4 linked regions of the Homo sapiens genome follow. The protein of the gene in region 1 interacts with the protein of each later gene in a biochemical or structural test. Each region holds a gene or a part of one and is shown in the gene's direction. Other genes may lie near its edges.

Region 1 (7,000 bases):
AGTTTGGATCCCCCCACCCCACCCCCACTAATTTTGCGAGAAGTCCGATTCCCTCAGAGTTGGAGTTTGGTCTGGGCCTCTGACTGTCTATATTTGACGCCTTACCCTGATTTTTCAGTAAAAAATAGCACATGATTTGGAGCAGTGCTTCCCGGCTCCCTGGTGACTTTGGAGCTGGCCCGCCCTGTGTGAGAGCCAGCGTGTGTGGCGGGCCCAGTGTGGCTGGCTTTCAGCCTCACTGGGGATTTCCTCCTCCCCACCCTGGCACAGGGGCCCCACTTTTTCTTCTTCCTGCCCCTGCCTTGATGCCAAGTCCAGGGTCCCGGTCCCCATGGATGACCCAATTGTTGCCCTTCTGGAGGTGGAGGCCTCTGCTGAGGGCAGAGAACCCAATTCCAGCTTGGCCTCAGGGAGGTGGGACCTCCCCTAGGGCCCTCTGCTAGACCGGCATATCATGGTGGGCAGCCCGAGGAGGGGTAGGAGGTGGTCTGGGGCCTCTGAGCCCAGGCCTGGGATTCCTGCAGGCGGCAGGACCAGAAAGGGAACAGGATTTGATAGGCTGAGAGAAGAGGGCAGGGTGCAGCCCAGGACAGGCTGTGAGGTGTGTTTTGGAGGTCACAGCGGGCGTGTGTGTCCATGTGTGTCAGGGAGGGGTTTCGTTGACTCAGGAGACTGTAGAGACTCAATGATGAAGGGACCGTGTCTCCTAGAGCAGAGGGTGAGAGTCAGGGGACTCCAGTGCAAAGTGGGCCAAATCCCACTGCTGAGTCCAGGCTCACATCAGCCCTGTCCCAGAGCCTGGGGCATGTGTGCAGTGGAAACCAAGTCACCGGTGACCCACCCACCTGTCCCAGCTGGGTGCAGTCTCATTCTGCCTGGCCACAGTTTAACCCATGTGACCTTGGGCAGTGGGCCTGGTGCCCTGGACTATGTGCAAGGTAGGCAGCCTGTTTGTTCGAGGGGTGCAATGGACAGATGAGCTTTAAGGGCTGGAGCCAGAGTTTCTCTGATGCTGTGAAATTGAGGGCATTGAGCTAAGTGACCAGAGGGGTCCCTCCCACCTAAGCCTTCTAGTCCTATGAGCACCCCCTCCCTCTCCCACTGTGGCAGTGAGCCTCTCTGGTAGGGGGTGGGGACGACACGGAGCAAACCCAGACAAAGGCTGGGACACGAGAGTGCTGCTGCCCACCAGGGTGCCCACAAGGTCTGCTCCTGGAGGAGACGGGCCCTGACAAGGGCCCTTGGGGGAGATGGGGTCCTAGTCTGACTCCTCGGGGCTCAGACTCAGCCAACTGATAGAGCTGTTCCCCATCCCTCCCCGCCCCCGCCTGGCTCCAAGTGGTGCCAACCTGTCACTGCAGGCGATGAAGCTTGAGCATGTCATGGTACCCCAAATGGTGCTCATTAACCTCCCACTGGGGGCACCCCTGCCTGGGCCCAGAATTAGACATTCCCACAGAGCCCAGCCCCACCTTCTCTGTCCTTCTGAGGGAGTCAGAGCTGAGGAATTCCTCTTTTTGCTGAGAGACATTGGAGAGAGACAACAGAGGGGTACAGGAGATGCCAAGGCAGGGGTGGCCTCGGAGCCCCATGGCGCCTGGGTTCGCTGTGGGCAGTGTCAGAGGCTGTCCCCTCCTCAGTCTCCTGGGCCCCCTAGCACATGGACAGGGGGCGTAACTTAGAGAGCTGCAGTTGTGGAGGGAGAGCGGCCTGGGTGTGCAGGGAAGGCCAGGCCCAGCTTTTTCCCCTGCTTCTGCCACCCGAGGGGCTCCTGGGGATGGAGGGCCTGCCTCTTCTCCACGGGGATAGAGATGGTCTTTCCTGCTTCCCTCCCCTGCTCCAACATCCACTTGAGCGGCAAGTCAGAGCCAGTCCTGGGTACCTCTCCCCTTCCACCCCTCCTGCTCCCCTCCTCCTCTTCTGTCTCACACCCGCTCCCCCCTCTCTCCCCATCTGGCATTCTCCAGCATCTTCTCCATCCTCTCTCCCCTCCTCCTCTTCCCCTCTTCTGCTCAGCCTGTTCCTTCCTCTCTGTGTCTGTCTTTGTGTCCCCTCTCGCCTGTCTGGCTCTCTGGGTCCTATCTCTCACTTTCCCTCTATCTGGGTGTCTGGGTTCCTGAGTTGGACGTTTCTCCAGGATTCCCCTTCTGTGCCTATGGCAGACCATGCTCACGCTGGTTGGAGCTACAGAGAGAATAGCAGTGCGGGTCTGCCAAGGCTGGGTCCCTTTCTGTCTTGACCCTGGGCTCCAGAACTATAAGGGCCTTTGTTTTGCTCAGAGCTGGGGTCTCAGGGGACTGGGTGAGGCCTCATCTCAGGGCTATCATGGGGAGGCATGGGGTGGGTAACTCAGCCTGCCTCCTCGGCCTCCTCATGCCAGTTCTGCACTTGTCCTCCTGCCGGCCTCTCTGACCAGCTGCCTCCCTCCCCAGGTGTTCAGCACTTACTCCAACGAGGATTACGATCGTCGCAACGAGGATGTGGATCCCATGGCAGCCTCTGCTGAGTACGAGCTGGAGAAGCGTGTGGAGAGGTTGGAGCTGTTCCCTGTGGAGCTGGAGAAGGGTGAGAGGCCAGGAGGCCACGTCACTTGCGCACAGCTGGGGTTGACCCGGGTCTCATCTCTGGCACCAGCTCCTGCCCTGTGCCCTCAGGGGCTCCCACAGACTTGCTGGGCCTCTCCCTCTGACTCAGGCCCTTGGTGACCTTCCCCGCTCCTCCCTTGTCAGCACCCAGAGCAAACAGGGCCTCCAACCCAGGCCAAGCCACACCCCCACCACCCCGGTCATGGAACCACATTTGCACATTCAGTTAACAGGTCTCTGTAGGGTACTGTGTGCTAGGTCCTGGGCTCTGTGTTGGGGACACAGTGGTGGGCTCCTGGGGAGATGGATGGGGGAGGCAGACATGGAAGGCACAGTCACATCTAATCTCACCCTTAGGCGCTGGAATAGGGGCTGGGGAAGGTAAGGAGGGGCCACTGTAAAAGCGTTTAACAGGTGACCTAACCAGACTGTGCTTGGGGGCATTCTCCAGGGAAGTGAAGCTTGAGTTGCACTCTGGTGAGGAGGAATTAGGGGAGTAGTCAGGAAAGGGGCTTGGCTGCATTTGCATAGGGAGGGCAAGAAGAGCATGCAAATGAGGCCTTGCAGACCACGTGGTCTTGTTGCTAAGATGGATTGGGAGCCATTTCGAAGCACAGGAAAGGTCTAGAAAGACCACACCAGGCTGTGATGTAGGGAGGGGGTCACAAGTGGATGGAGAAAGGCCACTGTGGCGTGGACAGGAAGATGGCAGAGCGGGTGTGGGTGGACTGGAAAGATCTCCAGGGGTAGAATCCATAGCATCTGGGGGTCATTTGGCTCAGGTGGAGGCTGTGAGTGGGAGGGAGGAATCCAGGTGCCTCCCAGGTCTGGCAGGTGGCAGGTGGTGGTACCATCCCCCATGAGGGAGTGTTTGTGGGGGAAGGTCATTAGTTGGGACATCAGAGGGCCATGAGTCAGGCAGGGGCAGGTGTGGATAGGGGAATGGACCTCAGGGGAGAGAAAATCTGGAGGTCTTTGGTCCTTGAAGCTATGAGTACAGATGAGACTGGCTGAGAGGGAGAAGACCAAAGGCTTAGGGCTGAGTCCCATCCTGGCTACCCCCATCCTGGCTACCCCCATCCTGGCCACACGCCCTGGTCTGCATATGCAACAGTCTTACCTGCCTGTGCCACCCTTGGCACGCTCTTCTGCCCATTGGTTCTTTGGAAGGGACAAAGGGCAGGGAGCGGCTCAGGAGCCATCCTAGTAGACTTGGCAAAGACGGTGGACAGAACTATATCCCTTCTTCAGTTGTGGGACATCCCCTAATGGGGACTGCTTCCTGATGGGGGGGCTGTGCCCTGGAATTCGGGGTGGAGAGTCTCTCGTCTGTCCCCTACAAGCCCTGCCATCTCACCACTCTCTGTTCCACAGACTCCGAGGGCCTGGGCATCAGCATCATCGGCATGGGCGCCGGGGCAGACATGGGCCTGGAGAAGCTGGGTATCTTCGTCAAGACCGTGACGGAGGGTGGTGCGGCCCATCGGGATGGCAGGTACCAATCCTCCCCAGTCTCGCCTGACCCTTTTTCCCTCTCCGACCGGCCATCCTTGGTGGGGTGGGCCACTGAGCAGGGGGTGGGGCGGGCCTTCCCTGGGAGATTTCCGTGCTGTGTGTGCAGCTGAGATGTTCGGGGAGCACTGCCATGCCAGGTGCTGTTCCAGGCCCCAGAAATACAACAGTGAGCACTGTCAGCCCCTATGCCCTGAAGGAGCGTGTGTTCTCCAGGAGGGGCTGGTGACCATGGGGGCTATAGGCGTGTGTTGTGCATCCCGGTCTGGAGTACAGTTTGGGCCCTGGTAGGGAGAAGACAGGCATGGAGTATATTTGAGCTTTTTTTTCGCTGGACATTGAGTCTCTGACAGTGTTGGGCCGGTGCTGGGCCCTGGGAAGTCAATGGTGAGGGCCTGGCGCACTTGAGAAGTGTGCAGTGTGGTGTGAGGTAGACATTGAATAAATGGACACACAAAAGGTAGTGAAATGGAGGGAAATGCAGACTGCTGTGAAGGCATACAACAGGAGGGTTTAATCTCTCTGGGCATTAGGGAAGGCTTCCTGGAGGAAGCAGTGCTGGAGCTGAGAGCTAAGGCTGGAGCAGGAGTTAGCTGTGCTGAGGGAGTGAGTGCAGAGGTTCCAGGCAGTGGCGCCATGAGCAGGCAGGTGTGGCTGGGGCATAGAGAGCAGGGGCCAGGAGGCTGTGACTAGACCCATTGATGGCAGTGGCTCTGGAGACAGGCTGTCTTTGCGCATGTGAGTGTGTGTGCCTGTATTGAGCATCTGTGGTTGCAAGGGGTGAGTTCTGTGGGACAGAAGGTTCAGGGAGGGCATCCTGGAGCTGTGTGCCAGCCAGGGACCCCTGTGTTAGCTGTGTATTCCAGGGGTGTGGGGAGTGGCAGTAGGAAGGGCTGTAGGGCATCCCCCAGGGTGGCTGTAAGTTAGAGGTGACATTGGGGATCTCTTGTGGTGGTACCTCCAAACCCAGACCCCCTCCATGTGACAGAGGTGAGCAGGTGTCCTTTGGGATCTGGGTGACTTTGGGATCTTGTTTCTAGAGATGGGGCTGCCCTGTCAAGGGGCTTCTACCTGTTGTGGCCCAGGTGGCATGGAGAGGGGCCGGGAACAGGATACCCTTTCATTTACCCCTTCCCCTCCCAATGTGAACTTCCAGAGCCTTTCCCATTGTTGCCTGTGGGTTGTCTAAGGAGTGAGTGTGCATGGTGGCCGTGGCCACTCACTCATGCCCACCTGGGAGTGGCATGTGTTGGGGTGAGCTGTTGACAATAGGCCATTTCCTCCATTTCCGTGTGGGAGTCCTGAGAGAAGGCCTGGAGCTCCCAGGGAGGTGGAGTGGAGGAGGGAGGTGTCTGAGAGGCCCCCCACCCTCCATCTCCCTCAGCAGGCCAGACTGAACCTCCCCTTGTATGGAGAACACGGGCTTCAGGGGACACAACTGGAGTGTGTCGGCAGGTGCACCTGTATCAGGTGTGTGTGGGACAGTGTGTGAACTCGAGAGAGTGCCATTCGGTCTTGGGGACTTGGGAGGACATCTGTGCACTCAGTTCTGTGCAGAAATGTACACGTAAGAGGGTGGCATGTCACTTGTGTGCTGTGGGGCTCCTGGCCAGTGTGCATGGCAGAGATGAACTCTGAGAATGTCACACCGCTCAGTCAAGTATGATGAAGGAGGGGACAAGAGTGTGATTGTCACAGGAAGTGTGCCTGCCGCGTCTCCTGGTCCTGGACGCCTGTGTCTGCTTTGCTTGCCTGGCTCTCACTGCCCACACAGGTGGGCCTGGCTGACACTTAATCCTCTGGCCTTGTGAATGTTACGCAGGTAGACAAAGTACCAGGTCCCTGTGAGGACAAAGTATCTGTGAGGTTTTTTGTTGTTGTTTTCTTTTCTTGTTTTTTTTTGTTTTTTTTTTTTTTTGAGGCAGGGTCTTACTCTGTTGCCCAGGCTGGAGTGCAGTGGCGCAAACACAGCTCACTGCAGCCTTGACCTCCCTGGCTCAAGTGATCCTCCCACTTCATCCTCCCAAGTAACTGGGACTACAGGCACGTGCCACCATGCCCAGCTAATTTTTCTTTTTATTGTTTGTAGAGATGAGTTCTCACTATGTACTCAGGCTGGGGAGCCTGGAGTTTCTGATGGGAGGAGGCTACCTCTACCCTCGCTCCTCGGTTCCCCTGTGACCCCTTAACCAATGTCACTCCGCTAGGATCCAGGTGAATGATCTCCTGGTGGAGGTGGATGGAACAAGTCTGGTGGGAGTGACCCAGAGCTTCGCGGCGTCTGTGCTCCGGAACACCAAGGGCCGAGTGCGGTGAGAGCCCAGAGGGGTGGGGCGTGGGAGCGGGCAGGAGGTCCTCGTCCAGGCACTCCGTTCACCTGCCTTAACAGCCAGTTAAGGTTCTGGTGGCCCAGCTCACAGAGGTTCTGCTGACTCCTTGGCTGCAGGAGTTGCTGTGCCTGGAGTCCCTCGCCTCACACCTGCCTTCTCATCCCAGCTCCCTGGCAACAGCTGGCCACCAGTACTCAGCCTTCCTGGCCCACTGTCCACCAGCCCTCCAAACTGTCCTCTAGGGCTTCTTCTCCTTCCCCCTACCTGTCCCTGACTCACTGACTGAAGAACCAGGACGTCCAGGGTGAATGCTAACCATATTGGGGTCCCCTCATTGGGACCTCATGCCCCCCACCCCGACCAGCCCTATGTCATCCTGGGAAGACTCCGCCCCAGGCCTGTAACCAAGGGGACTGGATCAGAAGCTCCCTGTGTCCACTCTACCTTTGGCTTAACATTCAGGGATCACTCCCTGCCCCCCTGCAAGAGGGGTACTACCCCCAGGAAAGGGTGGTGGAGAGAAACAGGATGTGGGTGGCCACCGGGAGGAGGGGCTGGTGCCTGGAAGTTCCA
Region 2 (7,925 bases), on another chromosome or scaffold:
AGAGGAAGGATCCCCGGACTGAGCTGGGTTGCTGCATTTAGAGCAGCATTTCTTAATTTCAGCGTTGCAGCATTTTGTACCTGGTAATTCTTTATTGTGGGGACGGCCCTGAACCTTGCAGGACATTTGGCAGCATCTTTGGCTTCTACCCACAGATGCCAATAGCGGCCCCCTCCCTGTATTCCAGACATTGCCGAACGTCCTTTAGAGGAGGAGAATCACTCTTAGCAAGAACCTCTGACTTAAGAGTTTGGGAGAAGAAAGGGCTGCAGAGGAGTGGCTTTCAAGGCGGTCACAGACCCTGTGAGTGTTCCAGGGGAAGGGCTGCTGTGCCAAGTGCTGCTGAGAAAGAGGGCAGAATAAGCCTGGTGCTTGGTGATGTGGAGTAGGGCATGACCCACAGAAGACCCTCGGTGGAGGGTCTGAAGATGACCTGCCGGGGGTTAAGGAGAGAATGTGAGGGGTCAGCCACAGTGCCTGGATACAGACACGGGGGGAAGGTGGCTATGGGAGGCAGCAGAAAGGTGATGGGGCTTGGGGGGCAGTTCTAAGGGGTGGGGCTGGCTTTGTAGAGTAGGGGCAGTGACCATAAGAGGGGGATAACTGAAGCGGGGGAACCCTGGGGTGAGATGAGAGGGGTTGGGCTCTAGGGCATAGGTTGAGGACTTGCCCTTCAATCAGCAGAGAGAGTTTGAGGCCAGATGCAGGTGGGCGGCGGGGGTGAGTTCCTGCCTGGACTTCCGTTTCCCCCTAAGTACCAGGCAGAGTCACAGCATGGTGGGGCGGAGGAGTGGCTGGGAGGTTGGAGAGGGAGGGAGGGATGCCGATTTTAACAAGTGGGAAAGTGAGCATACTAGGGAAGTTTGGAGATTTGTGGTCATGAATTTAGAGTGAGGCCAGTCGATGCAGAGAGTGTTTTGCTCCGGAAAGAGCAGCTGCTTGGTCAAAGGCAGGCAGTGGGTGGATGATTTAGGTTTGACCAGAGCTGGGGTTTTGTCAAGATCTTTATGCAGAGAGGACGACTGACTTCTATTATAGAGGACACGACCCAAGGATCTGGGAAGTGGGGAGGTTGGGGCATACAGGATGGTCTGGGGTTAAGAGTCCCAGGGACTGAAAGGCTGGTGGGGGGCGGGGTACATCTGGAGAAAGGTGGGGTGTGTGGCCTGATGGGGGTCTGTCCCAGTGGGCCCTTAGGGGAGGGAAGGCACCGTTGTGAGCTGCTGGAGCCCCAGCCCAGGAGATCTGGTGGCACCATCTCACCTCTCAGGCCTGGAGAAGTGTCTCCATGGCTTCCAACTAAGGTCTCACAGCCAGCAATGGGACAACAGTCTTGCCCTTCTTTGGAAAAGGTGGATCGCTTCCATGGCTAGGTCCTTTCCCCATGGCCCCTCTTCCCAAGGACATCCCTCCAGGGCACCCTCATTTGGGCTATCTGTCTTAGAATGCTCATGTGTATGAGTGCACTGTTGCCTGCTGCCACTGTCCCTCACGGCCAATGACCTTGTGCCAGGTACTGGGGACAGAGAAGGGATGTCCACTCTGATGGGCAGAGGTGATGCAACAAACCCATCAGAGAGCATCTTAGTACAGTGTGCTGAGTGTGAAAGTGGTGCCGCCTGGCGTCGAGGAACCTGGAGAATGGAGGTCCTCCCTCTGCCTGAGAGCCTGGTGACTGGTGAGTGGGCCTTGAAATGTGAGTAGGAGCCCACCAAACACAGAAGGAAGGGTGATAGGGCATCTCTATCAGAGCAAACAGCCCCAGGGAAGGTCTAGAGAGTGGAGACCCAGGGCACATTCAGAATCCAACACTGGCCTGGCGGGGCAGGGATGGAGGGCTGGGATCCAGGTTGTGCCCTGCTGCCCACTCCCCTGCTATGTGTCTGGGAAAGCTCCGGCTGCTCCTGCTGCTGGCTGTTGCTGGTCTGGGACTGAACTATGCCCGTTCCTGTGGAACAGGATGACAGTGGAAGGTCAGGTCTAGTTTGGGAAGAGCTGAAGGAAGCCTTGCTATGCTAGTAGGCTCCAATTCCTGCACCTGGCAGCCTCATGGGGCTGGTTGGAGCAGGCAAGGCCTGAAGGTGTGTGTGTGCGGGGGGAGATGGTGAGCCGCCGAGAGGAGCAGGAGCTGAGTTATGTTATGGCCTGCGTGGCCGTGGAGAGCTGGCGCACCCACGCTGCACTTGTCCATCCTGGGGTGGAGCCAGGAGGAGACAGCTGCAGTAGACGGTGACAGCCTGGGGCAGCGGTATGGATGCCAAGGCAGCTCCTGCTGCCCGGAGGGCACACATCTCCCAGGTCTGCCAGCTGTAGACTCTGTCCCTGGCTGTCCCCACCTGGCCTAGTGCCTAGCTGGCCCAATGAAAGATGCCTAGCAAGGCTTGGCACTCAGTAGACCCAAAGTTGTCACTTCTAGGAAGGCCCAGGTAAGCGTCCTCAGTGGGGACTTGCAGGGTGGGGAGGGCACACGGGCAACCCAGTCTCAGCTCCTGCAGCATCCCTTGAAGGAAGATGGGTCAGAAGACAAAGGCTGATGCTGGCTGCAGAGTCTGGGGAGCTGCTCACTGGCCCCCAGCCCAAGTGTGGTTGGAGACAGTGGAAAGGCGGTTCCTCCCGATGCCCATGTGGGCCTCTAGCAGGCCCAGACTGTGAAGGCCTTGGGAGCCCCTGGATAGGCAGGCACCTGCCTAAGTAGCTGCTCCCAGGCTCTCATGGCCACCCTCTGTCCTTCCTCAGGGAAAGAGCTACTGGCATCTCTCCATCACTGGTTATGTATGCCCAGGCGGCGCCCAGGCCCTGCCCAGCCCAGAGGGTGGGAAAGACACATCCAGGAAACTGTGTCTAGCAGAGTGGTCGGTTTTGAGCTGAAGCCTAGGGTTGGGGGTGGGAAGGAGGCTGATTGCCCTGTCCGAACCCAGCCCTGGCAGCATCCACCCCATGGGCTGTGGGCACTTGCACCTCACCAGAAGCTGGGGAGTCTGGCAGAATGACAGGGATGGGGGGATCAAGGAGGCACCTACTCCCAACACACCCCCGTGGCTGGGGGTGCTGGTCTGGGTACCTGAGACGGGGCACCTCCCACCTGAGCCTGGGGAGGCGCTAGACATTGTCCGTGGGCACTGAGAGGCCACGTGCTCTGCTCCCATGGAGGGAGCAGGGAGGAGAGGAGGTCCAGCAGGTTGGACGGGGCCTGGGGGAGCCCCACTGTCAGAGGTGGATTGGTGCTTATTTATACAGAGGATGCCTTGCAGAGTCGTGGGCTGTGAATAAGAGGCCTGGCTCGAGGCGGGGCTTATGACATTAGGGGCTCCAGAACCGGGGAAACATGCCCTCAGGGCTGCCCAGGCTGGTGCTGGTGGCGGTGTGGCAGGGAGAGTGAGTTGGGGCCCTGAGGGAGAACAGTTGCTCATAGCGCTTTGAAGGCGAGTGGGGGGCCTTAGTCTGAAGTTTCTTTTTACCCCAACCCTCTTTCCACTGTCACCCCCAGAAGGGCTTCAGTGTGTATGTGGGGCAGGACCGCAGCAGGGAGGGAGGGTCAACCCCTTCCCCCGGGGTCACTACAGAAGCGGAGGGACGCTCCTCTCTTCACGGCTGCCCCTGAGACCTGCTTTTTCTCGGAGCTGTGTGACAAAGTCCCCACCCTTTACTCCCCCACGGCAAGGAAGGGACCTCCCCTTCGCATTAGTCAAGGGGCGGCAGCTCGCCCTGTGCCCCGTACAAACCCTTGGCTGAATCGCAGTTGATGCTGTGATTCGAGTCCAAGCCAGTTTCCCTGTTACCTCCTTTGCCCTTAATGGAGGAAACTGAGGCAGCTGCGGAGACACAAGAAGCCGAAGTCCTAAGACCCAGGCTGCGAGCGCTGGCTCCGGGACCCGGGCTGCCGCTGACGGGCTGGGCCCGCGGGCGGCAGCAGGGGGCGCTCGCAGGCCGGGACGCGCCCTCCTCGCGCGGCGCTGGCCCGACGGAGCTGGTCCGCGAGGGGCAGCGCCTGGGAAAGGGTCGGGACCGGCTCCCCGCTCCCCGCTCCCCCACCTCTCCGCAGGGCGTCTCCACGGCCGAGCCGGGCGGGGTTGTGGTGTATTGCGACCCGGCGCCCCAGCCCCACGCCCGCCCTGCCCTCCCTGCGGGCTCCCGAGCGGCGGAAGGCAGAGCAGGGCGCACCGGCGCCGGGCCCAGCCCGGTTCCCCCGGGAGAAGTGTCCCGTCCCGGTGCCGGCCCGCGCGCTAGCTCCGCGTCCCGGCTCCCGGCACCCACCGACCCCTCCACAGCTGCGCGCGTCCTGCCTGGGGGCCGGAGACCCCGGCCGCCGGGCCCCTCCGCTCTCCCGAGGCGCGGCCGCCGGGAGGAAGGCAGGTAGAGGCGCTGGGCGGGGTCCGGGCGCGGGAAGTCCCGGGCTCACGCCTCCCGCGAAGCGCACCTTCAGCCCACCTCGGTCCGCCCACCGCCCCGCCTCCCGCCCGCTCCCGCGCCCGCCTCCAGTCTCCGCCTTCCTCCAGCCGCTCTCCCCGCTCCCCACTCCCCTGCAGGCGCGGCTGGGGCGAAAGCCTGCGAGCTGAGCGGGCGCAAGGTCCTCCGCGCCTCCTTTAAGAACCGGCCCAGCCCGGCCCGCGCCCCCAGAGCGTACGGCATCCGCGTGGCGGGAGGGCGCGACTTTCTCCGGTCCCGGGCGGGACGGGGACGGCGGCGGGACAACTTGGGAAACTTCTCTGGGGCGGACGGCAGGGACCCCGGGCACCGGTGGAGGAGGATGTAGGAGGGCGGCTGCTGGTCCTGGGTGTTCCCGACCTCCTAGGCCCCGCTCGTCCAGGCCATGGGGCTCCAGCGCCCTCGGCGCCGCCCGAGGGGCGACGCTCTTGTCTAGCCGAGCCGGGCAGCGCTGTCGTCCACGGTGCGCACTGGGCGGGCAGCGCTCCCTCTGCCCACCTCCCGCCCCGTCATGGACCACCAGGACCCCTACTCCGTGCAGGCCACAGCGGCCATAGCGGCGGCCATCACCTTCCTCATTCTCTTTACCATCTTCGGCAACGCTCTGGTCATCCTGGCTGTGTTGACCAGCCGCTCGCTGCGCGCCCCTCAGAACCTGTTCCTGGTGTCGCTGGCCGCCGCCGACATCCTGGTGGCCACGCTCATCATCCCTTTCTCGCTGGCCAACGAGCTGCTGGGCTACTGGTACTTCCGGCGCACGTGGTGCGAGGTGTACCTGGCGCTCGACGTGCTCTTCTGCACCTCGTCCATCGTGCACCTGTGCGCCATCAGCCTGGACCGCTACTGGGCCGTGAGCCGCGCGCTGGAGTACAACTCCAAGCGCACCCCGCGCCGCATCAAGTGCATCATCCTCACTGTGTGGCTCATCGCCGCCGTCATCTCGCTGCCGCCCCTCATCTACAAGGGCGACCAGGGCCCCCAGCCGCGCGGGCGCCCCCAGTGCAAGCTCAACCAGGAGGCCTGGTACATCCTGGCCTCCAGCATCGGATCTTTCTTTGCTCCTTGCCTCATCATGATCCTTGTCTACCTGCGCATCTACCTGATCGCCAAACGCAGCAACCGCAGAGGTCCCAGGGCCAAGGGGGGGCCTGGGCAGGGTGAGTCCAAGCAGCCCCGACCCGACCATGGTGGGGCTTTGGCCTCAGCCAAACTGCCAGCCCTGGCCTCTGTGGCTTCTGCCAGAGAGGTCAACGGACACTCGAAGTCCACTGGGGAGAAGGAGGAGGGGGAGACCCCTGAAGATACTGGGACCCGGGCCTTGCCACCCAGTTGGGCTGCCCTTCCCAACTCAGGCCAGGGCCAGAAGGAGGGTGTTTGTGGGGCATCTCCAGAGGATGAAGCTGAAGAGGAGGAAGAGGAGGAGGAGGAGGAGGAAGAGTGTGAACCCCAGGCAGTGCCAGTGTCTCCGGCCTCAGCTTGCAGCCCCCCGCTGCAGCAGCCACAGGGCTCCCGGGTGCTGGCCACCCTACGTGGCCAGGTGCTCCTGGGCAGGGGCGTGGGTGCTATAGGTGGGCAGTGGTGGCGTCGACGGGCGCAGCTGACCCGGGAGAAGCGCTTCACCTTCGTGCTGGCTGTGGTCATTGGCGTTTTTGTGCTCTGCTGGTTCCCCTTCTTCTTCAGCTACAGCCTGGGAGCCATCTGCCCGAAGCACTGCAAGGTGCCCCATGGCCTCTTCCAGTTCTTCTTCTGGATCGGCTACTGCAACAGCTCACTGAACCCTGTTATCTACACCATCTTCAACCAGGACTTCCGCCGTGCCTTCCGGAGGATCCTGTGCCGCCCGTGGACCCAGACGGCCTGGTGAGCCCGCCTGCGCTGCCCCTGTGGGGTTGGTGCGGTGGCGCCGGGGTCACCCTGCTTCTTGCCCTGCTGTGTGTGGCTGCCTCCCCTGGGCTTTCTGCTCCCTGCCCAGATCCTGTAGGCCTCATCTTAGGAACCCCTTGGGAGGGGTGGGCAGGGGGGCTGCTAGCAAGGGTCCCAGTGAAGCTTCCCCTTGCCGGCTTAGCTGTGGGGGACCCCTTCTCCACCCTCTCCCTGAGCACAGGCCGATGGAGGTGGTTCAAATCCTCTGGAACATAGCCAAGACCAGGAGAAGAGAGAGCACTTTCTTCCCAGAGCCCCATGCTCTCCAGACCAATGTCTGGGCTTCCCTTTCTTGAGGACCTTGTGTTCCTGGCAGGTCACTTGCTTGTGGTGTTTTCGTTTCTTTTTCATCTCCCCCCCACCCACAAAGAGCACGGAGCCAGCCTTCCACTTTTCCCAGTGGGGCCTGCTGCTGAGGGGGAGGAAGAAACGAAGACTGATCACCCACGCTAGGCACTCGCGGTCCCTGGCAGGCGCTGGGATGGGGGCTTATGGGGTGGCATCGTCTCTGGGCCCTCCTTTCCCCCTTTGCCTGTTTTCGGATCTGTGGTTCCTTTGAAAGCCAGAACAATGGATCGGCTTCCTTACCCAGCACCCCTCCGGTAGGTGGGTGGCCACGTGGATGCCTCGCTGGGGCGGTCTTGGAGGCCTGGTCTCTGCCTCGACGGGAGATCCCCGATCACTGGCATTCACCCCCTGCAAAAATCGGGGCGACAATAGCTCACTGCCTACTTGCTGCAGGGAGATGAAAGGCTTTGCAGAAAGCTTTGAGCTCTGTGGGGGAACACACTAGAGAACCAAAAATGTGATTATATGGTGATATAAAAATCCCTTTCCTCTGTGTTTACCACCACCTGTCTTCCTGTAGACTTTTGTTCTGTCCCTGGGGTGTGTGAATTCCTACCCCGAACTGGAAGCCGGGAGTGGCAGACAGAATCACTATTTCAAGTTAAAGGATCTCTTTGAGAATGTGTTCTTCTGGCTGCAAAGGTCTGAGTTATTACGCTACATGACAACGTTTCGACATTTCACCGGCAACACCAAGAGGGTTTTTAGTGGCTTGGGTCTCCCCAGTGGGGGATAAGTCTTTTGTCATCAAGGAGGCAAATTGTCTCCCCAAGACAGCTCAAAATATCCACACCTCGGCAACAGTCTAAGATGAGAGCCTGTGACAGGTGGCAGCGCCCCCAGGTGGGGTACTGGCATCAGAGCCTGGTGCGCCCCTAGGGGAGCCTCCCACTGGAGTGCCCGGCCAGGTCTCCAAGCCCCAAATGAGTCCTTGTGAACCACAACTGATCCCCCCAGGTGGGTGCTTGTGGACTGCCTCGGACCCAGCCACGCTGCTCCCCGCAATGCTGATGGGGCTGTGCATTGAGGACCCCTGCTTCCTGGTTCTCAGTCCCACCCCAAAACCTGGCACCCAGAACAGTTGGAAGTGTGGAAAGGAGGTTTATCGGCCTTCCCTTGGAGAGGGCCTGGCTTCAACATTGGGCCAGTAGGCATCTTAGCTTGGCAGGTGTCGGGGGAATGGGCCAGATGGACCTGCTAGATTTGGAAGGGCACCGAGGGAGTTTTCT
Region 3 (8,280 bases), on another chromosome or scaffold:
CTCGGAATGCTCTGGTCCAATGCTCCCATTTTACAGACAGGGGAAACTGAGGCCCTGGAAGCCAGAAGGCTCCCCCACTGCCAGACAATAAGTAAGGGAATGAGCAGGAGCCTAAAGCCACATCTGATGACCCCAAACTCCATGGAACTGAGAAAAGGGCCTGTTGGCCAGGGGCACTGGGGCCTGGCACAAGCAGCCACCAGGTGAAGGCACCCCCTGCACTCAGCACCCAGCAAGCATCAGTGCGGCTAAGGAGGCTAGAGCCAGGCCCACAAGCCCATCTGCCCTTCACGGCACCCATCCTGCCACCAGGCCTTCATTCAGCTCTTTCTGTGAGCTGAGAGCCCAGCCCTGGACCAGGCAGTGGGGATGGGACACAGCTGAGATGTATGGTTACTGATGATGGCCATGCCCCATGGGGCATGCAGGAGGCCGGCAAAAGTGGCCCAGATCCAGCCCGGGAGGTCACGGGAGGCTTCCTGAAGGAGGAACATCATGGGACAAGTCTTGAAGGAAGCGAGCCCCAGGAAAGATGAGGCAGAGGGCATCCAGGCCTGCGGACAGCACATGGTCAGGCCCAGGGTCCACAAGAGTTAATGAGAAATGTCCTCACAGCTCACAGCGTGGAGAGGAGGGCTGACCGCAGGAGCCAGGTGGAGCTGTGCAGACCAGGCAGGCGAGGCAGAACCCAGCCGCAGCCCCGGAAGAGCTGGCTGCAGCAGCAACCCAGAAATACATCTTCTCCTCAGCCTAGGAGGGTGGGCAAGGCCACAGGTGCCGCATATGTGTGTACACATCCATATATGCGAAGCCATGTGTGCACATGCATGACTGGTGTCATGCATAGGGACAGATGTGTGCAGCACAGGCATACACACGTGTGTGCAATGTGCATGGATTCGTGTTATCTGCACAGGGAAGGCTGTGCGTGCCCGCAGTATGCACAGGTGTGTGCACAGCATGGGTGCATCATTTCTACATATGCCAGTGTGATACATATGCATGTGTAGACATACGTGTGCAAAAAGCACGTGTGTATGATAGTGCATATGTATATATGCACCTGCATGTGAAGAGTACACGGGCATGTGTATGCACACGCAGGCATGTGTGCATGTGTGGGAACATGTATGTGTGCATACATGTGTGTATATTCTGTAGGCATGGATGCACTGTAAATCCACATGGTATATGTAGACAGTGTGTGTGTGGATGTGTGCATGCATGTGTGTGTGAAGGCATGCAAGTGTGCATGAATAGGTTGCATGCTTGCATGCATGTGTGGATATGTGTATGTATGGGTGTTCATGCTTGCATGAACACACGTGTATTCATGATATGTATATTCATGTGTGTGCATGGATCTATGTGTGCACAAGGATGTGTGTGGATACATATATGTGTGTGGACACTGTACATCTGCGTATGTGCATGCATGCCTGCATGTGCAGGGAGGGGGCTCAAGGAGCCAAACTCCCCTCCACCCGAGCTGAGGCTGCTCACGAAGCCTAGAGCGCGGCATCCCAGGCAGGCACCCAGCTCTCTCCGGCACAGCAGCCAGGGCCCAATGTCCCATGGCTGTATGGCCCTGCTGGACCAACCCTGTCCTCCTAGGCCCCACGCATCATGGGTGAGATACAGGCAGGTTCGCCTCTGCAGCTCCAGGACGTGCCACTTCTAGGTTCTCAGTTCTAGGAAACACCTGTAGGTTTCCCCTCTGAAATATGCCCACTTCTGCCATGTACTCCCCTGCACACGTACACACAGACAGCCCCCACAACCCCCGCCAGTGCAGCCTGACTCCCCCAGCACCCTCCTTCCTCGCCCCTCCTGGTCGTGCCAGCTCGCGTCGTGCCTCGTCAGGACAGGAAGTCTTGCTGGGTACGTGCTGTTCTGCTTGTTACGGACAATCCGGAGCAGTTCCTCAAGCCTAATTTCAAGGTCTGGGGGAAGAGTCCTCTCCAGCTTCCTTGCAAACAGCTGCGGTCCCGGGCCCTCCCACCACAGGCAGGCCTGCGTGCAATGCAACCCCTATGCATGGCCCAGGGCTTCGCTCCTCCTAATGACTCCAGGCCCCAGCTTTTTGCCCTTGGCTCCATCCAGGCCCTGGAGTGGACCCTTCTGACCCCTCCCTGGTCATGCCAGGAGGTGTTGCCAGCAGCATGTCAGCCTGTTGGCTGCCATCCCCAAGGGCCTGGGCCGCTCACTGGCCAGGCACTCCAGATGCCCTCAGCCTGGCCTGTGAGTGGCCCCTGCCTTCAGCCCTCCTGGGCAGTGGGAGGCTCATCTGGCTCAGGGCCCCAGGTGCTCCGTGTCCTTTTCCCTCCAAATTCCCGTGCCTGGGCTGCCATCTCTTGGGAACATAGGAGCCAGGATCCTAGATAGATCCCCATGCCCCTGCGCATCCCCCAAAGCACTTCTCAAAAAGAGAGCCCTTCAGGATGGGGGTGGGAGGCACGCTGATGCCGAGGGAGAGAGACCTTCTCCAAAGCCTGCATCTGGCCCCTGCCACTGCTCTTTCCTAGTCCTCCTGTCTCCCCACGCCCCCAGTACAAAGCCCACTCCCACTGGAAGAAGGACAGCCTACAGAGGCCTCCCCCTTCCTCATAACACCTCCTCACTCTCTAAGCACAGTTTGGTCACCTCCTCCAGGAAGGCTTCCTTGACAACCCCGCTCCCAGGCTGGGGGAGGAGCCCCAGGGCACTGATGGTTGTCAGCGCATTCACCTCAGTGGGTGGCCCCATCCACCCACAGATGGTGAGCACCTCAACTGAGGCCAGGCCCCCCTCACTCTCTGCCATCGCAGAGGGCTCAATAGAGACAAGGGCTCCAGCGGGCCGACCATGAAGGAAGCAGGTGTGTGTGGGCTTCCCTGAAAAATGCACCTCCAGGTGCCCTGGACAGGTGGCACCTTTTAGGCAACCAGAACCAGGAGGGCCTTTAGTAAGGATGGTGACCCTCCACCATCCCCAGGTCACACACCTCCCACAGGACAGCCATGGCCTGTTGCCTCCCCGAAGGGCATATGTGCCCTAGACTAGCACAGGACTGGCACAGAAGGCTTTGGCTCCAACGTGCGCCCCTGCTTGGCAGGCCCATCATCTGAAATATTTGCTTTCTGCCGGGCCCTGGCTCGGCCTCCACACCCCCAATGCAGGCCCTGCTGGTGACAAACATGGTGAAGAACGAAGCCGTAGCTCCTGGCAGTGTCTCTGCGGAGACAGACATGCTCCCCAGTAGGGCTGAGCAGCAGAGAACACGACAGGCTCTGAGGCTAAAGCTGGCGCCCTTCAGGAGCTCAGAGAGAAGCTGCCCCAGGCCACGGGCATGGATAGGCATCCCGGGGGTAGGGCAGTCACTCCAGCCGCTCTTCATGATGACCTCCCGGGCACTCAGAAGCGCCCCTTCCCCGCCGGTTCTAGCCACAGGATGGACAGACCTTCCCTCCCTCTCTCCTGCGGGCCCATGCAGGGAGAGGCCAGCCAGCTGGGGTTCGTTTCTGGACGTTTGGGAGAAGGGTCGTCCCTTCGGTCCTAGCAGAGAAACGTCAGGCCTGAGAACTCCAGCTCTCCTCCTGGATCACCTCGTCCCTGGAAGTCCCTCTCCCACAGACCCCAGGCTGCCTGGAGGCAGAAGCCAGCACCCAACATGGGCCACAGAGTGGCAGTGCACGTGGCAGTGCACATCTGCAGAATGGAGGTGCGCGGACGGGGGCGAGGGTGCACGGGGGCTACCTCAACGGCCGCTCTCCCCTGAGCCCACCCTTGCAAAAAGCTCCATCATCCAGGCAGCTCCGTTCTGGGTGTTTGTCAGAGGTGGTGACTTTGAACACCTCTCCATCCTTTAAAAGCAGGGCCTGAGAGCCTAAGGATTAAACTTCAATCACTGCTAACATGGGTGCAGAGCTTGGGAGCTTGCCCAGGGCTTCCACAGACACCGCCGTTAGTTATGATTCATGCTCCAGCAGCGCTGGGAAGTGGGCCGAGGGAACTGAGGCCGGGGTGGGTGCGGAGGTGGCTCTGACGGGGAGCGCCGATCCAGGATCTGGTCCGGACCCTGAGCTCGGCAGGACCTGTGCGCACGCAGGTAGCGTCGCGTCCTCCCCCAGGCTGCGAGAGGTTGCTCTGCCATCAGGCCATGGACCCCGAGCCGCCCGTGCTGCGCGCGCGCGTGTGCGCGCCCCCGCCTGCGCCCATGCCTGCGCCGGGGGAGGCGAAGGAGGCTCCAGTCTTAGAAAGAGCAGCTTCTGGAACTCACCACCCAGGCCGGCCGCCGCTCGGCCCCGTCCCGCAGGCTGCAGGCGGCCCTGGAGGGGGCGCCCTCGCCGAGCGCGCGCCCCGCGCCGCCGCCCCGGACTCCTCCCCGGCGCCGCGCGGGCAGGTTCGACCAGGCGGCCGCGGGCTCCGGTTCCCGGCCAGCTCCCCAGGGCCCGCGGCCCGCCCCGCCCCGCGCGCCCGCCCCGCTGCGCAACTCGACCCAAGTTGGAAGCCGATCGCAGGCGGCCGCACTCGCGCCCAGCGCAGGGCGGCGGCGGCGGCGGCGGCGCAGCTCCGGCGAGCGAGGCGGCGGCCGCACGGCCAAGCGTGGACCGCGGGGGGCGCCCGCGCCCGGGAGCAGCCGGAGGACTCGCGGCGGCGCCGGCGCCCCGCCCGGGAAAGTAAAGTTGGAGACGGAGGGAGCGCGCGGGCGCGGGGGCCCGGAGGAGCGGCGGCCGGCGCCCCGGCGCGCCGAGCCCTAGCCGGCCGGATGGGAGGCGGAGCGCCCGGGCCGCCGCCGCCTGTCGCCTGCGCCCCGGCTGGGCTCCGGGACCGCGGGGCCGCTCAGGCACGCCCGCTCGGGCGCCGCGTCGCCGTGGGCTCGACGCCGGGGCGCTCCCCGTGAGCCGGGCCGAGGGCGGGGCCGCGCGAGGACCCCGGGACCTGCCCCCCTCCCCCCGCAGCCGCGTCGCCGCTCGCTCCGGGCGCCTCCTGCTCTGCACTTACACGCTCGGCAGCTGCGGGGAGCCCGGCAGCCACGCTCTCCGGCGCGCCGCCCGCGGAGCCACCACGGCCGAGGGCCGGCTGCTGGGCGCCGCGGTCCCCGGCGGGCGCGCCCGAGCAGCAGGCGGCGATGCGGGCGCCGACCCCGGCTGGGGGGCGCCCGAGCTGCCGCGGCTGCGCCCCGGCTCCAGGAGGGACGGCGTAGCTCGCGGGAGGACCATGGCGTCCCCGGCGCTGGCGGCGGCGCTGGCGGTGGCGGCAGCGGCGGGCCCCAATGCGAGCGGCGCGGGCGAGAGGGGCAGCGGCGGGGTTGCCAATGCCTCGGGGGCTTCCTGGGGGCCGCCGCGCGGCCAGTACTCGGCGGGCGCGGTGGCAGGGCTGGCTGCCGTGGTGGGCTTCCTCATCGTCTTCACCGTGGTGGGCAACGTGCTGGTGGTGATCGCCGTGCTGACCAGCCGGGCGCTGCGCGCGCCACAGAACCTCTTCCTGGTGTCGCTGGCCTCGGCCGACATCCTGGTGGCCACGCTGGTCATGCCCTTCTCGTTGGCCAACGAGCTCATGGCCTACTGGTACTTCGGGCAGGTGTGGTGCGGCGTGTACCTGGCGCTCGATGTGCTGTTTTGCACCTCGTCGATCGTGCATCTGTGTGCCATCAGCCTGGACCGCTACTGGTCGGTGACGCAGGCCGTCGAGTACAACCTGAAGCGCACACCACGCCGCGTCAAGGCCACCATCGTGGCCGTGTGGCTCATCTCGGCCGTCATCTCCTTCCCGCCGCTGGTCTCGCTCTACCGCCAGCCCGACGGCGCCGCCTACCCGCAGTGCGGCCTCAACGACGAGACCTGGTACATCCTGTCCTCCTGCATCGGCTCCTTCTTCGCGCCCTGCCTCATCATGGGCCTGGTCTACGCGCGCATCTACCGAGTGGCCAAGCTGCGCACGCGCACGCTCAGCGAGAAGCGCGCCCCCGTGGGCCCCGACGGTGCGTCCCCGACTACCGAAAACGGGCTGGGCGCGGCGGCAGGCGCAGGCGAGAACGGGCACTGCGCGCCCCCGCCCGCCGACGTGGAGCCGGACGAGAGCAGCGCAGCGGCCGAGAGGCGGCGGCGCCGGGGCGCGTTGCGGCGGGGCGGGCGGCGGCGAGCGGGCGCGGAGGGGGGCGCGGGCGGTGCGGACGGGCAGGGGGCGGGGCCGGGGGCGGCTGAGTCGGGGGCGCTGACCGCCTCCAGGTCCCCGGGGCCCGGTGGCCGCCTGTCGCGCGCCAGCTCGCGCTCCGTCGAGTTCTTCCTGTCGCGCCGGCGCCGGGCGCGCAGCAGCGTGTGCCGCCGCAAGGTGGCCCAGGCGCGCGAGAAGCGCTTCACCTTTGTGCTGGCTGTGGTCATGGGCGTGTTCGTGCTCTGCTGGTTCCCCTTCTTCTTCAGCTACAGCCTGTACGGCATCTGCCGCGAGGCCTGCCAGGTGCCCGGCCCGCTCTTCAAGTTCTTCTTCTGGATCGGCTACTGCAACAGCTCGCTCAACCCGGTCATCTACACGGTCTTCAACCAGGATTTCCGGCGATCCTTTAAGCACATCCTCTTCCGACGGAGGAGAAGGGGCTTCAGGCAGTGACTCGCACCCGTCTGGGAATCCTGGACAGCTCCGCGCTCGGGGCTGGGCAGAAGGGGCGGCCCGGACGGGGGAGCTTTCCCAGAGACCCGGGGATGGATTGGCCTCCAGGGCGCAGGGGAGGGTGCGGCAGGGCAGGAGCTTGGCAGAGAGATAGCCGGGCTCCAGGGAGTGGGGAGGAGAGAGGGGGAGACCCCTTTGCCTTCCCCCCTCAGCAAGGGGCTGCTTCTGGGGCTCCCTGCCTGGATCCAGCTCTGGGAGCCCTGCCGAGGTGTGGCTGTGAGGTCAGGGTTTTAGAGAGCAGTGGCAGAGGTAGCCCCCTAAATGGGCAAGCAAGGAGCCCCCCAAAGACACTACCACTCCCCATCCCCGTCTGACCAAGGGCTGACTTCTCCAGGACCTAGTCGGGGGGTGGCTGCCAGGGGGCAAGGAGAAAGCACCGACAATCTTTGATTACTGAAAGTATTTAAATGTTTGCCAAAAACAACAGCCAAAACAACCAAACTATTTTCTAAATAAACCTTTGTAATCTAATGTTGGGTGCCGCAGTCAGTCCTTGAGCTTGGGGGCTGGGGGTATCTTCCAGACCCTCACCCTGCCTGACACCCTCCCCCATCTCCCCCACCCCACAATGCTGGACGGAGGGCACCCTGGGCCTCCGGGTTACAACTTCCTTCTTGCATGAGAAGGAGGGGTCTTGCTTTTTCTCAAGCTAACCCTTTATGTACATGGAAAATATGTACTCAAAATTCCTGTGCTGAGAGTAGCGAAGAGGTGAAAGGAGCCTAGAACCCCCAAGTTGACCCCAAGTTTAGATTCTGGGGGACTGTCTTCCCTGCATTCCCATCCCTGCCCCCTGCCCTTCCCCACTCTGATATTCAGGGCCTCCGGTGGAAAGAGGTGGGGCTCTTCCAGTCCAAGACTGAGAGTAGCTTTGAGCTAGTCCTCCTGGCTCTGAACATTTTGTGGGCGTGGCTCTTGGGTGGAGAGAGGGTGGGCGTGAGGCCGGCAAGCCCCCACACCATCACTCTTAGGCCAGAGGCCTGGCCAGAGCCAGGTTGAACAACAGGCACTTTCTTATTTCCGAAACAAACTGAAAGTCATTGAGGCCCCAGAGCAGTGGAGTGGAACAAACCAGCAATGTCTGGAGAGGGGCCTGGGGCCGGCCTGTTTCCTGTGGTGCCCCCAGGGTCTTCCCAGTGCAGCCCTGCCTTTCCCCCTTGCTCCACCGTCAGGCCCAGCAGGTGTCCACACTGTTCACACTGCTGCTTGAGGAAGGGCAGTGGAAAGTGGGGGACAGAATACCAAGGTGGGCTTCCTGGTGCTGGGCCTTCATGGTGTAGGGACCACTCAGACTCAGCCGTGTCACAGGGCCTGGAAGTTGCCAGGATGGCTGGAGGGGAGGGGCAAAAGCGGGACCTGCGCCTGGCAGGAGCTGGGCAGGGGTCCCCCCAACACACACGCACAGACAGCTCGGTAGGCGTGTGGGGGCTGTGTCAGGCCTCCTGCTTGTGACCATCCATTCCCCATTCCCGTCCCCCTTCCCATCCCTGGGAGGCCCCCCTGGGCTTCCCTATGTGTACCCTCCCCTGCCAGACCCTGCCTGCTGAGCCCAGCCCAGATCCATCCTGGATACCCACCTCTCTCTTTGGCATGGGGGGCCAGGGTCTGCCTGGGGAGGGGTCAGCCCTGGGT
Region 4 (8,089 bases), on another chromosome or scaffold:
CATACACACTAGTAAAATGACCAAAATTTGTGTTAACACAGTATATTTTGTTCCCAACGTACAGGCAAAGGAAAAAGTCCTACTTGCCTCTAAAATTTACTATTTAAAGTACATTTTTAAAAACCATTAACTGTGCTTATAAACATTAGTCAGGCTCTTGTGAAAAAGCATTGCATTTCTACCCAGTGTCTAAAACTGATTTGAAGGAAATATTATGAATGGGCCTACTTGCACCTGCAGACCTGAAAAGGGAATGCTTATCTGAAATCAGAACAAGGCATCCTTTTCCCAGTCTCTGTCAATATACAAAGGTTTCTGATGTATACTGATTTGCATGGCAGTTAAAAACATGCAAAAAATGTAAATTATAGCCAGTATAACTCAGAAAATTAGAGATCAGCATAAACTGCTGTACTTTTGTGATATAGCTACAAGTCTCAAATTATATGTCTTTACAGTGCAAATTAGATGCTTAAAGCAGAATAGAAATTTAGGTATCAGTTACAATGGAAATCTTGTTTCCTTGCTCAGTAGTTTACACCAGGAGAATGTTGAGGGCAATAAAGCCATACAAAAGAGACCAGAAGCTGCATAAGACCAGCATAACTTTGGGTTTAATTTTTAAAGCAGAATTTATAGGTCTCGAACATATAGTGGACTTTTAATAACAAATATATAGTGAGCAGTGGGGGATGTTATTAATCAAATCCAAAGATTTCTGATGTAGCAAAAATTATAGCAGTTTGTTTTTTAACTGTCTCTGGTGAAGATTACCCACAGCTAGAGAAATAATAGCACTGTAAAATGGTCAATAAATAACCAGAAAAACATAAAGTATATCTAGTGGTTAATATTTGAAGAGTTAATGTAGCAACATTGTTTCCACATTTACTTATTTTAAAAGATTAAGAACTTTCATTACCTAAATTTTTATATAGCAATATAAGTGTAACAAATTTCAGATATCACAGTTTCTTTTAAAAAAGCGGTAACTATTATTGCAATCAAATTTCACCTTCTGTGTATTGCAATGAAATTTCACCTTCTGTTTATTCAAGTATCAATTATTTATTATTTTCAACAACAATCAACTAGATTAACATTATTTTGTGACCATATCATTACTTCCCCTCAAAGCGTTGCATAGCATAAGTGTTCCCAGAATTATTTATGCTTACCTAAAGTGATCGGATATTTAAAAGAACCAAGGTATCATTAACAAAAAATTCAGCCTTCTAAATTATTTGCATAATAAGCTCCCAAATTAATTCTATCTTGAAGCAATGGAGACACTTTCTGATCAATTAAAAATCATACATGTTTGCCCTCTAAACTGACAGCAAAGTAGCTGATATGCTTTGGAAAATTCCTGTGCCCCAAAATAACTTCTTCTCTTGTTACCAAATTATCTGAAATCTCACTACTTAATGGATTCTTTTTGGTTAACCATGGTATTAACCCTATGATTTTTTAAAGTTTTTAACATGGTATAATGGAAATTTTCAAATGCATACAGAATTAGAGAGAATGGTATAAGGGACCACTATATACTCATCACCCAGCTTCATTAACCATCAACTCAAAGCCAACTTCTTTCATCTGTGCTCCTGCTGGTACCCAATTCACCCCCTTCTCCCAACTAAATATTTTGAAAGAAATTTTTCATATCATTTTATTTTAAAATATTTCAGTAAATAAAAATACTACTGGAGGAGGAACACACTGTAACTAATCTTAAAGCATGAATTTTTTTAAAAACTGAAACTTAGGGCAACAAGAATGTTCACAATTTTTAAGGGAAGCAATTGCAAAAGAGAAGGACACGAGGAATGGGAAAGACACAGTTTCAACCATTTACTTTTCAATAGTTCTATTATAGTTCCATTAAAAATATTTTTATTTTGAAAGTATGGATATGTAATAGCTTTTTGATACGCATGTATATGAACAGAGAAAAACAACATGAGTAAATCTGCTTCCCGTGACAAATGTTAATTGTTTTATTCCAATGGAATCACAGCAGGTATACCTTGTAAAGTTTCAGTTTCAAGGATCTGCCTGCCCTTGCATGATTAGTTTTTCTCCTATCTACTGTATCATTTAAAGCAATATCCATATATGTGGCAAAACCTTTTTATCTCCTATTTTTTCTCTCCTTTTGCTATAAGTCCTTGAAAGAGTTGTCCGTAACTCCTCTCTCCGATTCTTCTCCTCACCTTCTCTTTGAATCCATTGTGAGCAGGCTTTCTTTATCACCTCTGCAGTCCACTCTCTTAAGATCAGGGTAACCTCCACATTGCCAGATCTGATGGCTAATTCTTAATCTCCATCCTGCTTGATGTATCATCTGTTGGTGACTTGACACTGTTGACCTTGCCCTCCTTGGAAACAGTTTTGTTGGCTTCTTGGACCCACACTCTCTTGGTTTAAGCTCCTTCTCCATCTCTGATGTTGATTCTTCCTCATTTCTTAACCTCTAAATGTAGTAGTGGCTCAGGACCCACTCCTAAGGACTTCTCTGATCCAGTCTTGGTTTTCTTTTTTTTTTTTTTTTTTTTTTTGAGACGGAGTCTTGCTCTGTCGCCCAGGCTGGAGTGCAGTGGTGCGATCTCGGCCCACTGCAAGCTTCGCCTCCTGGGTTCACACCATTCTCCTGCCTCAGCCTACTGAGTAGCTGAGACTACAGGCACCCGCCACCACGCCCGGCTAATTTTTTGTATTTTTAGTAGAGAGGGCGTTTCACTGTGTTAGCCAGGATCGTCTTGATCTCCTGACCTCGTGATCTGCTCGCCTCGGCCTCCCAAAGTGCTGGGCTTACAGGCGTGAGCCACCACACCCGGCCCAGTCTTGTGTCTTAAATACCATTTCCACATTGACACCTCCAGAATATTTATCTCTAAACCTGACCTCCAGAAGGTGCAGCAAATTGTGTAAACCATGTCTCCACTACACGCCTAAAGGCAAAGACCCTAACGCATTCAAAACCAAACTCCATTTTCTTGTCCAGTCTTCATAATCACACTGTGAGAGAGGTCCCTGTTTTTGAAACAAATAAACAGGAGCAGAGGAGATAAGTAACTTGCCCAATGTCACCTATCTAGTAAGTAGGAGAGATGGGATTTGAACATCGTAGAGAAAGCTTGAATTATGCTTCATAATATGAACTTCCTAATCAGTCTTCATCATTTCAAACCTTTGTCCACATGTTCCTTTCTACTCAGAACTTTCCCCTAGCTCCCCATTGTCTTCAGGCTCCTCATACAACTTCCTCCCAGCTTTGCTATGGACACACCCACCTGTGACCTCCTTGAGGGAAGAAGCTGCCTGTATTTTTGTGTGTCCAATGCTTGGTACACAGTAGGTCTTCACAAAGTATCTGGAGTAAATGACCCCATAGATAACTTGAGGATAATAGTGAGCAATCTAAAATTGGGCAGCTAAGCAAATTCTCCCTAATCATTTCTAAGCCTCACTAGAATTTGAACTTAGAGAAATAAAATTTTCTTTTAAAAGTGGGTTACACCATAAAGGACACTTGTTTCTGTTTTCCCAGACCATACCAGAAAGCAGTCTCTTGACCTTCTGGACAAATCATTAGCAAAGATTAAAAGCTGAGACTTAGTACTCTTTAATCTTATTTTTCAAAGTCTGTCTTGTTTTCAAACTTTCTGTGACAATGATTTCTATTGTTGATAATAAAATATAAAAAGTAATCCTAATTCTTTACCCTTGGTATCAACTTTAAAATTGATTTTACAATTTTACAAAATTGTAATTAGATTACAAAAACTGGAATTTGTAGTCATTTTCAACTAAATACTTCAAAAATTACAAAAACTGGAATTTATAGTCATTTTCAACTAAATACTTAAAAAATTAATAAAAAATCCAAGCTATTCTAACTCCTTTAATGACTATTCATTCAGACTTTCTTAAAGCACATACAGCTTTATGACAGGCACTATACTGAGTTCTGGAGTTAAAAAATAACAACGATTAAGTTTTGTGTATTATTTACTGTAGGCCAGGCACCCTCCTGGACACATTATTTGAAAATATAATATATCCTTTAATGCTTACAACCCTGTTAGTTATATACTGTTATTCCCATTGTATAGGTAAGCAAACTAATTCAAGAGGCATTGTATAACTTCTTCCAGATCTCTTAACTAATAAATAATGGTCCCAGAATTCCGATCTGTGTGGTTTGAGTCAGCATTCTGAATCATAATTATAGACATATAGATTGCTTTTCAAAGGTGAGAGGAGTCCCTACCTTGAACCTTGGAAGGTTCAGCTCTAGCTGTCCTCAGGCCATTGACCTCAACCATGGGCAGGGAGTCCATGGGGCTTGCTCAAGTAAAGTCTGTCACCCCCTCTAGATCATCTCCAGAATTCTTAGCCTAAACAGCCTCAGACTACTTTTATGGCCTGCCTTCTGGGGGTAAACTGAGTCACCCCTGTGCCAAATCCTAGGTGAAGATGGCCAAGGACACTGATGCAGGAGAGGTAAACAGAGCTTGGACATGCAAGCTGAAGTGTCCATGCAGGTAAACAACAGGCTACCTGTGCTGCAGAATAAATTTAGAGGTGGGAGAGAAGAGGGGAAGATAATGGCTGGAGAGGCAACGCTTCACACACTGCCCAGTTCCTAACTAGAAATCTGGAGGTGAATATTCCAAATTCAGACCTAGCCTTCCAGGTCATTATGCATATATATTTATCAAGGAAGGAAGATAGAACTTATTTTACCTATGGGTTTCTTTGCCTGGTTTGTAGCTGTTAAATATGTAGTCTGTTATGCTCACTGCTATTTGTGTTCTTGCTGTTGGCCCTGAAACAGTTAGGGGCAGACTTGTCTACTAGTTTAAATATTACTGGGGGCCGGTTGCAGTGGCTAACAACTGTAATCCCATCACTTTGGGAGGCTGAGGTGGGAGGAACACTTGATGTCAGGAGTTCGAGACCAGCCTGGCCAACATGGAGTAAAGACCAGCCCGTCTTTACTAAAAATACAAAAATTAGCGGGGCATGGCAGTGCGCACCTGTAGTCCCAGCTACTTGACAGGCTGAGGCACAAGAATTGCTAGATCTCAGGAGGTTGCAGTGAGCCAAGATCATGCCACAGCACTCCAGGCCTGGGCAACAGAGCAAGATTGCATCTCAAAAATAGATAAATAAATAATAAACAAATAAATATTATTGAGCCGGGGAGACAAAGAAAGCACCAGAGACCATTGCATAAGGTAGTCTGGTAGTCTTGACTACCTCATGTCAAAGTGTTTTTATATTTTAATAACTAAATCCCTTTTGGTAATCTTTGAGATGTGTACAGATTATACAAAATTTTACTCTCTTGCAAATCATGTTACAATGAGAGTCAAATGTATGCATAGTCTTAATTTAGTTTTACTTATTTCCCTCTATTATTTTAAAAAATATCTTAGAAGGCTGGCCACAGTGGCTCACACCTGTAATCCCAGCACTTTTGGAGGCAGAGGTGGGTGGATCACGAGGTCAGGAGTTCGAGACCAGCCTGGTGAACAGGGTGAAACCCTGTCTCTACTAAAAATACAAAAATTAGCTGGATGTGGTTGCACACACCTACAGTCCCAGCTACTCAGGAGGCTGGGGCAAGAGAATCATTTGAACCCATGAGATGGAGGTTGCAGTGAGCCGAGATCGTGCCATTGCTCTCCAGCCTGGCGACAGAGCGAGACTCCATCTCGAAAAAAAAAAAAAAAAACAACTTAGGAAAGAACATTTTACTGACATGAATGACCTAATTTGGTCAAATTATTCAGTTGGCATATATTTGATATTTAATATCTATAAGTGAATGACTATATAGAAAAAGCAGTGCCATACTATATTCATGGAGTAAAAGGACTATTTTTCGACTTAAAGTGAATCTTAATGTGACCTTATTTCCTCTTTCGCAGTAAGTAAATTATTTGATTTACACACCAAAAAAGTGTATTGAAAGTCAGAATGATTTCCATTGGGATTTTATAATTTAATTAAAACAGACCCACCTTTTAACAAAAGTGCTAAGATCAATTCTTGCTAGGAAACTACTAATATTAAACAGATATATTTAAATTATCTTCCTGCAGTTATTGAAAAAAGTCCTTAACTAATATTAGTTTAGGAAACAAAAATAAGATTATTAACTTAAAATTGCATTGTTAAAGTGTTCTTATCAGATATATACTTTTAAGATGATTTTTAAAGATGCTTCTATTTTGAGTGCTATTATCCAAAGTACTAAAAGTTCATTTTAGGCCAGGCGCGGTGGCTCACATCTGTAATCTCAGCACTTTGGGAGGCCAAGGTGGGTGGATCACCTGAAGTCAGGAGTTCAAGACCAGCCTGGCCAATATGGTGAAACCCTGTCTCTACTAAAAATACAAAAATTAGCCGGGCATGGTGGCAGACACCTGTAATCCCAGCTACTTGGGAGGCTGAGGCAGGAGAATCGCCTGAACCCGGGAGGCGGAGGTTGCAGTGAGCCGAGATTGTGCCACTGCACTCCAGTCTGGGAGAGAAAAAGCGAGACTTTGTCTAAAATAAAATAAAATATAAAAGTTTGTTTTATAAACAGCATATAGGGTCTTATAAAGTGGCCTTTCATGCTGACCTCATCAATGAGCCAACCATCACTGCTATAATGGTTTTAGACGTGCGCTATCTCTGCCTGGTGTTTTATTGATGTTTTGCTTTGTTGTAATCAAATAATACTGTTACATTTGTTAAGGACAGAATCTGTTGCTATTCCAGATAAATATTGGTATCGTTTGTTTATTCTAGAGGATTGCCAAAAAATTCACAGTCTCGTGATAGTACAGGGTAAGAAAGCAGAGTAGCTGTCAAGGGCTAGTTCAAGTCAAAGCCTATGGAAGAGACCGAGTTTGGAAGTGGAGAGAAGGGCTGGTGATGAAGACAGGAGGATGAAAAACTAGAAATATTCCAGCTCTGAAGAACTGTACCAAATATGTCATATTAGGTATGTGAGATGTGTGGTGGATTTGGGCCAGGAATGTTTTGGTGTTTTCCATGGTTTTGGACTCAACTTCCTTTTAGGATAAAGCGGGTTGAAATTTCAAGATCTGCCGATAGTAAATGAAGCCACAGTTAAAAGTACTGCTGTTTCATGTGTACATGTGGTATCAGGGATCTTTCCTTGGAATTGAACCACAAACAGCTTCCCAGGTAAAGGCATTTTTTTTTCCTGATTTTAGTAAGGACCATATATTTAGGATTATTTCTTAGTAACTGTTACAGGTACTAGGTAGGGAAGGGGGCTGGGTGAAAAGCTTCATCCTTATGGAATGAGGGATTACCACTATGCTGTAAAGGATCATTAGAATATTATGAGGTCAAACAAAGAAAATAATTAAAAGGAAAATTCAAAATTCTACAAGGACTGGATTGACAGGATTTATATTAAGGAGTACCAAATAGGGAATGTCTTTTCTAATTGCCTGCTGGAGAGGTGCAAAGAGGCCAGGCTGGATAGGCTTAGTCATGCAAGGTATTCATTGACTGCAATAGAACAAAGGATGCAAAGAAGTTTTGGGGTGGCAAGGACTTGCTGTAGAACTGGCTGTTCTAGTTGGAAACAAAGACACTATTGTAGCAGAACTGCATTGTTGGCAGCAAAATGACTGGCTGGTCTCTTTCTTAGTACAAATCATACCTCCCAAGGTATTGCTCCATTGTGTTTTTGTGCATTTGGTTTGGATTTTTATGGGGAATTGAAGACAAGTGGATCATAAAGTGCAAAATAAAATGCTCTAGAAATGACAGATGGGGCACAATTTCCAAGAAAATTCATCTAGACAGTGGCAACACTGAGAAAAAAAAGAAACATTCAAGAAGGGAGTTACAGTTTCAGACATCCTCAGTTTTGGTTAAAAAGGTCCCTTTTGATGAGTGTGTCAGTCACTACCAGCTAGAACAAGGGCCCTAAAGTGAGGGCCAACGTATATAATCAGAGAGCCTGACGTCAGGTTGATACTGAAAATATGAGAACTAAATGGCATTACTACCAGTCTTTAGTTTAGAAGATATAGCATGTTTGATGCCT

The links.
Region 2: the proteins of PPP1R9B (region 1) and ADRA2B form a complex in vitro, tested with the Homo sapiens proteins (one study listed by BioGRID).
Region 3: the proteins of PPP1R9B (region 1) and ADRA2C form a complex in vitro, tested with the Homo sapiens proteins (one study listed by BioGRID).
Region 4: the proteins of PPP1R9B (region 1) and ITGB8 form a complex in vitro, tested with the Homo sapiens proteins (one study listed by BioGRID).

What each region holds. Positions count from the first base shown.
Region 1 is NC_000017.11:50,140,678-50,147,677, reverse strand, and holds part of PPP1R9B (neurabin-2), read left to right. Parts: intron 1-2,432; coding exon 2,433-2,565; intron 2,566-3,959; coding exon 3,960-4,080; intron 4,081-6,304; coding exon 6,305-6,409; intron 6,410-7,000. UniProt on the Homo sapiens protein: Seems to act as a scaffold protein in multiple signaling pathways. Modulates excitatory synaptic transmission and dendritic spine morphology. Binds to actin filaments (F-actin) and shows cross-linking activity. Binds along the sides of the F-actin.
Region 2 is NC_000002.12:96,113,161-96,121,085, reverse strand, and holds the start of ADRA2B (alpha-2B adrenergic receptor), read left to right. Parts: upstream 1-4,514; 5' UTR 4,515-4,936; coding exon 4,937-6,289; 3' UTR 6,290-7,925. UniProt on the Homo sapiens protein: Alpha-2 adrenergic receptors mediate the catecholamine-induced inhibition of adenylate cyclase through the action of G proteins.
Region 3 is NC_000004.12:3,761,408-3,769,687, forward strand, and holds ADRA2C (alpha-2C adrenergic receptor), read left to right. Parts: upstream 1-4,977; 5' UTR 4,978-5,199; coding exon 5,200-6,588; 3' UTR 6,589-7,119; downstream 7,120-8,280.
Region 4 is NC_000007.14:20,333,463-20,341,551, forward strand, and holds part of ITGB8 (integrin beta-8 precursor), read left to right. Parts: intron 1-6,810; exon of another isoform or gene 6,811-7,006; intron 7,007-8,089. UniProt on the Homo sapiens protein: Integrin alpha-V:beta-8 (ITGAV:ITGB8) is a receptor for fibronectin. It recognizes the sequence R-G-D in its ligands.